Linked DNA regions of Homo sapiens: region 1 is reported to be linked to region 2. The links are microRNA targets in miRTarBase. Many come from high-throughput screens and were not tested one by one. Region 2 holds a microRNA gene; the other region holds the end of a gene's coding sequence.

Region 1 (4,317 bases), not on the chromosome of region 2:
TCAACATCCCTACCAGACACGTGTCACATTTAAGTTCACGCACAGGACCATGTCCTGGAATGATAAGGCTTTCTGCTGCTGTTCTACCCTGAGGGCATTCCGCAGGCATCTTAGGAACTCAATCTTGAAGGCTCAAGCTAAGCAAGTGAGTTCAGCTTGTACTCATCACCCAGAATTCTCTAGTAGTCACTTTTACCTCCAACTTCCCACTCTCTCGCCTCCAACTAAAGGGTTCCCAAGGTCAGTTCTGGCTTAGCTACACTGTTCATCTTCCACCTCCTTGTCATGCCTGCAGCAAGCCGAATTTCTGTTCTCTGAGAGGCTGACCCAGAGCTCCTCCTGGGTGACCAAGCTCGCTTCTCCCTGGGGACCAAAGGGCAGCATCATCGGCCAAAGACAAAAAGAAACCCTGGGGAAGACATCCTCCCTTACTTTCCTGCCTGCTAGGGTGGGGGCCGAGGCAAAACTTGCTCCTACTTTTCTACTTTGCCCTTCACATTAACAACAATCTGAAGGGCATTAAGGTTTAATGTGTTCTCTGCGGATTCAAACGAGTTCCTAAAATTAAGTACTACACTCTATTACTTATTAATCACATCTGATTCAGAAGTTTTTCTTCACGTACTTCCTCATTTTCTGGACTTTGAACTTCCCTCTCATGTTAGAGCCAAGCAGCTGTAGCAAACTAGCCATTATTTTTTCCTGCATTGCATAAAATAGAATAACACTCTCCAAGTGTAATCCAGCTTCTGTGATTTATATTGATGAGCATCTCAGGACTCTGCTCCACACCAAGGCTTGTGACCATCGGAAATGTTGCAGATCCAGTTATGGCAGGATGCATGCCTCTATTCTCCAAGGATTCTCTATTCTACCCTTAACCAATGATCTGGCCTCATGACAGCAGTCTTCTATTGCAGGGACATGGTCAGCAGGGAGGAAATATGCTTACGGGGCAGCACACTTGGATTCCTCTAAAAATCATATACTATCCCTCTAAAATCACCTATATTTTTCCATCTCCCTGTCCTCTAATCAGTAAGATATTTAAGCATGTGAACCCCTATTGAGATATTGGACAATCACTCTGTAATTCTTTCTGTGTGCATGGTAGTTAATAAATGTGTATGCCTTTTCTCATTAATCTGCCTTTTTGTGAGTTGATTTTTCAGCAAATCTTCCGAAGGGTAAGGGGATGCTTTCCCTTTGCCCTGCAGTTGGTAATAATTTACTCATGGCAGCACATGGTACAGAAGGTAGAAGGTTACTGAGCGAGTGACCCACTGTCAGGAGACTGGCCCGCGATCAAAGTGCTTGGCTGGCTCATCAGAGGGCGCTGATTTTGCACTGATTTTTACCAGCCCCTCAACCACCAACTCCTGGGCAGCCACCCATGGGAGGTAAGGCTCCATTGCGGGGGTCAGTGGACATTCATTATCACACAGGGGCTTTCTCATTTTCTTTTCTAAAATCCTTAATATAATAGTATCCTGTGTACGTCATCTAAATGTGACCTTTATGTTTTCTATGAAGGACTATATATATATATATACGTATATATATATATATATATACACACATATATATATATATACATATGTATATATATACATACATATATATATGTATATACACACACATATGTATATATATTCTACATAGAGGCACACTTCTGATATATGAAAGCATAAGATTACAACCAGCTGTGATTTTTATTTATTTTAGCTTCTAAATTTAAAATTCTCAGATTAATGTAACATAATCTGTTCATTTAGGGATTCGTGTTTAAGTTCTATGCTTTAGTGCTAGGTGGCTGCAAATCACAATGTACTTTCAAAACAAAGTATCTTAACCTTTTAATAAATCCTTTTCATAACCTGTTCAATTCAAAAAAATGTTTATAAACATGTTAGACATCTGACACCATTCTATCGCAAGAGGGTAGAAACATTTATTGCAGCAGAATACTATGGTTATTCACTCTCAAGTTTATTATTCCCCTTATTTTATTGTAGCAACTCTGGATTCTTTAGTATAAAGAGAAATCAAAAGAAACAAAATATCTATAGTCTTAGTTTCAGAACTACACTAGGATCTGGTGACCTAAACCATATGTACAGAATATAAACATATTTATACTTTATATGTACATAGTTAATGGTTACCTATGCATTATAAATAGTAAGTTTAACTTAGATTCTACAAAAATAATCATTTTGGGTGGGTACATGCAAACCAGTACACATAAACCTATTTATAAAACACATCTCTATGCTTTTTTTTTTTGCTTCTAAATATAAATTTTGCTATTTAGCCATCAGCTAAATGATCTAAATGCAAACCCCAAAGTTTCCAGTTAAAAGTATAAAATCTGCTTCTAACCACAGCAGCATACTGCTTCAAGTATTCTCCTCCTATGTAAGGTCGAGATAATTTTGTCACATATGAATTTTAGGTGGACATCTCATTTCCTCACATATTAGACATCCTGCTGGGGTCACAGCTTCTTTGTTCCATTTGTCTTTTTTTGTTGTTTTTTAATAAGACATTGCAAACAGTAGCTATTTCTTAAAGTGACATAATTTTCGCTTTTGCATTCTGATAAAAATGAACATACTTAAGCCTCTTCCTTGCACCCTGACCCTGGTGCTCTAGCATAATGCAACAAATCCTACGCTCAATGGTTTGCAGGGCCATCCACGCAGGCAGATGACTGGGTGGCCACAAAAGGCTCATTTTGCTTCTGGTCCTCTTTCATGCCAGCTGCCTGGTCTGTGATCGAGGAGAAGGACAGTTGGTCATGCTCTATGATGTGCACCTGATCCTCGTCCTTGTCCTTCTTCACATAGAACATTTTTCTGAATTTTTTCAGCTCATGGAGTTCACAGAAGGTTTCCAGAACTACCAACATGGCAATAAGGCCAAGTAGCAGGTAACCTGTGTGAGAAACAGGACACTGTCTTAGTGTGATCTCAACATGGATAAATCAAGTAGCGAGTGATTTACCTCCCCACCTCATGCCAACACAGTGTTTGTTAAGGAATAAACTCATTGCCAGTTTCTTAATTTTTAGAAGTGTTTTTAAGTTCATGGTTCAAAGAGGAACTACCCATTATTAAAGAGTGAAAGACAATGAAGAATGATTTAACCTCCTATGAACTTGGATTAGTTAGAATCACAGGCTGCAATTTTTGAGAAAAAAAAAATACTTGGGGCTGATGTGGCATTATTAAAGACACATAACATACTGCACTTACCCAAGTGTGATATTTTATGCAAGGAGGGTTTGCCACCTCTGCTTTATAATCAGTGGCTCACAAAAAGCCAGTGATGTTTTAGAAAAGTTTTTGTTTTATCATGGGGTGCTCGGAAGATTTTAAGCACTCAATACTCTTACAATTTCTATTATAGAATAAGAGTTTATAATAGAAATTGCAGTCTTAAATGCTATGGTTTGGCTGTGTCCCCACCCAAATCTCATCTTGAATTCCCATGTGTTGTTGGAGGGACCTGGTGGGAGGTAGTTGAATCATGGGGGTAAGTCTTTCCCCTGCTGTTCTCATGATAGTGAATAAGTCTCACGAGATCTGATGGTTTTAAAAAGAGGACTTCCCCTGCACACATTCTCTCTCTCTTTGCCTGCTGCCATCCATGTAAGATGTGACTTCCTCCTCCTTGCCTTCCACCATGATTGTGAGGCTTCCCTAGCCACATGGAACTGTAAGTCCAATTAAACCTCTTTCTTTTGTAAATTGTCCAGTCTCGGGTATGTCTTTATCAGCAGTGTGAAAACAGACTAATACACTAAACTAAATCAAAAATTTAAGAATGTATGTTGATATTAAATAGGTCCTTGTGCATGGCTATCTACACTTGCACCTAAATCCAGCAACAAAGCCAAGCTCTTCATTATCTCTCAGTTGTTTTTGGACATGTGGACTATTCACTGGCCAACATTACCAGTTTGTTACTGGGAAAATGAAGGATAACTGTTGACTCAAGTAAAATGTATTGCTTGGAATCTGTGATGGGAAATGGTGATTTAAAATTCCTTCCATCATTTTAAAAATGAGTTTTCAGAAAAAAAAATCATAAAAAGGAACAGAAATGTGAAGATGAAAACTCCAAGAATAACAAAAATTCTGATTTTATGTCCCAGTGGTAAAACATTTGAGAAGGATTTTCGAAAATGTATGAAGTAGGGAAGCTAAAATTGGCAGCATAACAGGAATAAGGAAACTAATTAACCACAGAATACAAAGTTTTAGTATCTTCAGAATCTGACTATAGGTTTTGAAAACAATATCGTGCATTCAG
Region 2 (6,102 bases):
CTATGCCCAGGATAAACCATGGGTCCCTCTTTGCTGAATCCCAGCTCCGTGCCCAAGTGAAGGAGCTGTCAGCCCTCTCTGCTCCCAAGGTTCCCCTGCCAACACCTCTACACTGACTTGGACATCTGCCTCCTCTTCTGGTCTATACTTCACTCATAGTTCCTGCTTTTCCTAATCAGCCCCAAGAGGAATGGCCTGCCATACGGGTAGACAGGAATCAAAATTCCTGTAGTTGCCAAAAAGTCTACAGAAGTAAACATGCAAAAACTGGAAGTTTCCATACAGGAAATTATTGGTTAGAGAATGGTTACTATGCTGCCTTCTCTGTTCCTAAGAGCTATGAAGTTGTAATCAAACCAAGCCTCCCTAAGCCTGTTTGAGGAATACAACCTTTTTTTTTTTTTTTTTTTTTTTTTTTGAGACGGAGTCTCGCTCTGTCTCCCAGGCTGGAGTGCAGTGGTGCGATCTCGGCTTACTGCAACCTCCGCCTCCCGGGTTCACGCCATTCTCCTGCCTCAGCCTCCCGCGCAGCTGGGACTACAGGCGCCTGCCACCACGCCCAGCTAATTTTTTGTATTTTCAGTAGAGACGGGGTTTCACCGTGTTAGCCAGGATGGTTTCGATCTCCTGACCTCGTGATCCGCCTGCCTCGGCCACCTGAAGTGCTGGGATTACGGGCATGAGCCACCGCGCCCGGCCAGAATACAACCTTTTAAAACATTTTCTACCCCAAGGGAATGTGGCAAGGCTAATGTGGGTGGAAGGGCTTGGGGTGGAGCACAGGCCCTTGACATGCAGTAGGTAGCTCTGTGCCCCAACACCTTCTGCCTCCCCGATCCAGGTCAGACTCACCCTCGACTCCATGAGCCGGTTCTTCTCTGCATGAGCCTCTTTCAGCATCTTCTCCATCTCCTCGATCTTCCCCATGTCCAGACCACTCGCGCTGGGGAGAGAAGGGGAAGAGGAAGTGCATCAAGGAGCTGAGGCGGTGGCTGAGGGAGGCTGCGGGCCCAGGCGTCGGGTGTACCTGGACATGTTGTCAGGGGAGCAGGCCGAGTTGCCCCCGGTGGAGATGCTGGTCTCCATGCTGTCAGAGCTCTCCAGACTCAGCGTATCATAGGCGTGCTCACCCTCCTCCCCACGCTCCCGCCCCGCAGGCAGGTGGTGTAGGATAGAGTGGTGCATGAGAGGGGGGAAGCCCGAGGGGCCCGCTGGGAAGGGTGCTGCCCCGTGAAGGGCATCCCACTGGCACTGTGCCTCAGCTGCCGCTTTCTGCTTCAGCTCAGCCAGTCGCCGCCGCTGCTCTTCAATCACTTGTTGTCCTGAAGGAGAGACAGATGGGAGTCACAGTGGGCTCCCCACGCAGCTAAGGAGCAGGCCACTGGCAGCACAACACACAGAGGGAGGGGCAAGCAGGGAGAGGTTAACACAGAGCAGCCCCCTCTCCCCGCAGCTTCCCTAAGGCCCCTGCAGCTCCAGGCCTGGCTGCTCTGCCAATGCTTCAGTCGCCTGCACAACCGGCCACAGATGCACAGTCTGGCTTCAGTGCTCTTTCGCACCCTGAGTCCATATAGGACACCAAACCTACCCAAGTAGTGCTGGGGCAGCACGACAGCCAGTTGGCTCCAGCTCACAACCAAGGCCTAAGTAGGTCTAGGCAGGATACATGCACCCACCCTGCCTGCTGGAGAAGGGAGAAGGAAGAGATGGCAGAAACCCCATGAGCACCCAGACTGCCAATGCAGACCCCCCTGCAATGCAGAAGCAAAAGCAACAAACGCAAGAAAGAAGGCAGGGGAGACACGGTAGAGCACAGATGAGGGCAGAAGAGAGGCCAGCTGGAGGGGTGAGGCCAGCAGACACCCCAACCCAGCTCAGCCTGGGACCCTGCCTGCAGGCAGTGGGGACCTGGGCAGGACACATCATGCTGATGCCAGGGCAGGGGCTGCCTGGCCAAAGCAATGCCCTCTATGACCAACGTTCTACCTGCTGGGTCGTCGGTTGGGAGGGGCTCGGCGGGAAGCGACTCGACTGGCGTGGGGGACCCCAGGCAGAGGGTACGGTAGAGACACAGAGGGGGTAAGAGGAGAGAGAGGCACAGACATGGGCTTTCAAAACAACCAAATTGCACACAAGCAACAAGGACTCCTGGGTCCCCAGAGCCAATATCTCAGGCAACCATTTCTAGAAGTCATCAAATCCATCCCCTCCCTCCAGAGAGGGCAATGTCTAACCCGACTCAGGTCAACAAGCAGTTCCCTTATTGGCTAGGCTCTCTAGGAAAGATGTCACAGCCCCCTAAGCCCTTAGTCTCCTGCCCTGAAGGCTTTAGATAAATATCCAGGAAGCTCTTCTTTAGGTACCCACTCTAAATCCTTTCTGGTCTTGCCTAGATCCCAATTAAAGGAAAAACATCCTGTGAAAGGTGTGAGCATAGAGGAGGCATGGCAACTACCCAGGGTCCCCTCAGGAGAGCAGGTGGGCTGGCGGGGCAGTCACTCACCCTTCTGCTGCAGAGCTAGTTGGCGCTTGGTCTCGATGTCCTGCAGTGTGGCTGCCAGGTTGCGAGGAAGGCTGCCCGTGCCATTCTGGGTGAGTAGAGCGCTCTGCAGAGGAATGGAGAGTTCGGACCTGGGCTCAGAAGGCCCTTACCCCCATTCCCAAGGTCTTGGCCTCTCCCCAGGGTGGAAGTCTCCATCCCCAGCCACATGTGCAGCCCCACCCACTGTCCTCAGACCTTTGGGGAGGGGCTACGCCCCAGGGTAGCCACGCTGAGCTGGGAGGAGGAGGAGGAAGAGCCAGAGGAGGAGGGGAGGGGGCCGCTGCGGGTCCGGGGAAGGGGGCTGGTGGCCTCGCCATCCATCTTGGAGCGGTAAACCTGGAAAGAAAAGATAGTGCCCAGTGATTCCTGGCTCCCCCATTGGCCACCTCCCCCATGTCACCTAGTCTGCTGTGATCTGACGTACCGCCCTGGCACTAGGCCTCTGAGGCCTTCTGGCTCTGACAACAAGCCTCCTGAGCCAGCCCAATGGCCAGATGCTATTGGCAGCTGCCAATTCTCCTTTCCAGGCTGTTCCTCCCTGGGCCAATCCCTAGCCCAACCCTGGGTCTAAGAAAAGACCTGTAAACAGACCCATGCAAGGATTTAATGTCAGTCAGGCAGTTGTGCAGGAGACCAACTAGAAGCTGGGTTCCCTCTGGTCCTAGCTCTGCCACTAACAGGCTGTGTGACCTTGGGCCACACACCTCCCTACTCTGGGCCTTGGCTTCCTTATCTGCAAAAGAAGGGGGTAGGACTAGACTAAATAATGGCCAAGCTCCCCTGCAGCACTAGCATGTGGTGAATATGGCCTTTAGTGTCACAAACCCTGACGTGGCATAAGCTCTGCTACTTCCTAGCTGTGTGGCCTTGGAGAGATTACTTATCTTCTCTAGGCCCCAGTGTTTCATCTATAAAATGAGTTAACTTCATCTACCTCAAAGGCCTATGATGATGATCAGAGAATCAAAACACGTTAAAATCTCTAACCAGCTGGGTACACAGTAGAAGTCTTACATGATCAAACTCCTCCCCAAGGAAACATGAAATTTTAGCTGAGGTCACAGTCTTACAGATGCAGTGCCTTCACTCAAGGGGTGATCTTAAATGGTCAATCTTAGGCACTGCAGCTGGTCAGTGGAGGAAACCTGAGGAGAAGACTAGCCCAGCCCCCTTTCCCACCCCATGGTCAGTTGCTTGCTGCAGGTTCAGGTAGGCCCACGCCCTCCATGGCAACTCTGAGGAGGCTTAGGCTGTCACTTCAGAGTCTTTGCCCTTTGTTTTCTGCTTCCAAGTGTCACTGCTGGAGAGACCAGGAGAACAAAATACTGGCAGTTCTTCCCAGGACACACTAGTTCCAGTTGCCACAGGCCCAAGAGCCTGTCAGGCCCCCAGACTGGGTGAGAAGCTCCAGGTGTTGGGGGCTGCCAAGCATAGGCCAGACCCACAGCCTAGCTCAGCACAGGGCACCAAACAGATCCCAAACTGACCACAGCTCCAGAATCCTCTTCCACCAGACACTCAATCAGATAGTTTTAGACTATGGAGGCTGGCCCCCCGGTTGCCCACATGCCAGGATGGCTGCCCAAGGAGTGACCCTCTCAGGGCCCAGAGGTGCCCTCATTGCCCTGACTGGGCTGACGCCTCCACTCAAGGTGGTACTGTGTGGCTGATGGATTGGCAGGAGGTATCAGAGTGGACAGGTGCAAAGGCTGGGGAGGACGGGCAGTGAAGGAGGGGTTACCTGCAGCTGACGGGAAGCTTTGGCGGGCAGAGGCGGGGGAGAAGAGTGAGGGGAGGCTGCAGCGGGGCCAGTCCCCAGCCCGGCCATCAGCTCCTGGTACCACTGCTCTAAGTCTACAGCAGGGAGCAGCAGCTTCTCCATCTGGAGGTGGGAATGGGGAGGGGAAAAGGGGACAGGAGGGGAGGATGGAGAGGAAAGGCCAGGAAATAAAGGGAAAGGAAAAGGCAGGAGAAGGGAGAAAGAAGAAAGAAGAGGAAGAAGGAAGGGGAAGGTTAAAAAGGAAGGCCACATCAGGGAAATGGACAGGAAGGTGAAGGAAGAAGGGGAGGAAGGAAGGGAGAAAGGAGAGCATCAAGAAAAAGAAGAGAAAAACAGTGAGACAACAGTTGCCCTGAATGTACTAAGGGCAAAGAGAAACAGTCAGGGTACAACTTCCAGACCACAGACATGTGCTACACCAGCCATGAAACCAGCCACCAGACAGAGCCTGCAGGCACTGGGCACTCCCCTTGGGCTGGCCCAGAGCCAAGAGGCCAGGTGAGCAGGAGCAAAACACACACAGAGCACACCAGTCATGGGTGGGGGTAGCAAGAACTCACAAACCACCAACCTTAGGTGAAGGCGTGATGGAAGCGAACGAGGAGGAGGGCAGCATGGGAGGAAGGCAGGTGGTGGGAACCAGGTCCCGGGAGGCGGAGGCCCAGGGAGAAAGGCCTGGCACAGGGGCTGGGGGCATGGGCGAGGTGCCCCGCATCACCTTTAGCTGCTCAAGCATCACGTACTTGGAGCAAGGCCAGACGCAGGAGGGAATATAAGAGGTTAATGGAACCAGAACACATGAGATGGCCCTACCCACAGGGGAAGGGAGGGAAAGGGCAGAAAGTACAGAGCCTGCAGCCTAGGAAAGCCAGAGTCCTCTCAACTCGACACCCTCATCCTAGAGCAGAAGGCGTGCCCCTCCCCAGGCCATAGGAGCTAAAGAAAGCTCCCAAGGCCCCAGGGAAAAAAAGAAACCACTCCCAACCTCCCCTTATGCAGGCTGCCCTTCTCCCTCACTGTCGAACACAGACCCTTCTGTCCCCCTAGCTCCACCCAGGCCCAAGGGGGAATCTAGGCCATCCATAAAGAGGTCCTTGGGCATTGGTGGGCACCCTCGGTGGCTGGTACCTCACTGTCAGGCAGGGGCTGGGCGAGCACACTGGGGGAAGTGGCAGAAGCATAGGGGTCCAAGCGGGAACACAGCTGGAAAACTTCTGCCAGGGTCACATATTCCTGGGGTGCCCAGTAGAAGGGGTAGGGGTGGGCAAAGAAGGGGTTAACAGGGTTCAATAAGGTGCCCAACACCCCAAACTCCATGCCAGGCCACAGGGCCATCACTCCATGTCAATACAAAATCCAAGGCAGGGGTAGGGTGCCTGCTATGCCCATAGATGGCTGCAGGGAGTGACAGAGACCAGAAAAGGGCAGCAGAACCAACTGTCTGAAGGCTCCTCCTGCCCTCCACTCTTAAAGAGCCACTTTGGCATCCAGTCCTGCCCCAAGCAGACCCTGAAGGCCCATGCCTGAATTCGCCCTGGGCTGGGGGCAGGCAAAGAAGCCCACAGAAGGCCTTCTAAGAGTTCACTGAGGATCAGAACCCAGCTTCCAGAGACCCCCTCCCCGTCCCCAACAACCTGGCAGTCCCCAGTGGGGCACACACATGCAGCATTGAGCACCAGTCACACCATTCCCCAGGGTCCCCTCACACCCCATCAGCCTGGACAGGAGCTAGAAACAGGTGGGGGAAGGTGGAGACATCACCAGGGCCTGAGCAAGATGG

What was found. The annotated mature microRNA hsa-miR-6716-5p reads UGGGAAUGGGGGUAAGGGCC and lies in region 2 at 2,644-2,663, opposite strand. An mRNA with a match to its seed (bases 2 to 7 or 8) in the 3' UTR can be bound and repressed. Matches are read on the target gene's strand: a 7mer-m8 pairs with bases 2 to 8, a 7mer-A1 pairs with bases 2 to 7 and ends in A, and an 8mer does both.
Region 1: the mRNA of KCNK1 is a reported target of hsa-miR-6716-5p. The part of its 3' UTR that is shown has no 7-base or 8-base seed match.

Annotation. Positions count from the first base shown.
Region 1 is chr1:233,669,891-233,674,207 of GRCh38, reverse strand. KCNK1 (potassium two pore domain channel subfamily K member 1) reads right to left here. Exons shown (of 3, transcript NM_002245.4): 3 at 1,694-2,937. The coding sequence ends at 2,678. Among named protein-coding and RNA genes, the nearest start is that of MIR4427, 48 kb to the right of the region's middle.
Region 2 is chr11:118,640,576-118,646,677 of GRCh38, reverse strand. It overlaps MIR6716 (microRNA 6716), which reads right to left and starts at 2,678; the gene lies at 2,599-2,678. PHLDB1 (pleckstrin homology like domain family B member 1) reads right to left here. Exons shown (of 23, transcript NM_001144758.3): 13 at 4,284-4,424; 14 at 2,738-2,878; 15 at 2,504-2,606; 16 at 1,028-1,322; 17 at 853-943. RefSeq lists an enhancer at 2,204-2,703.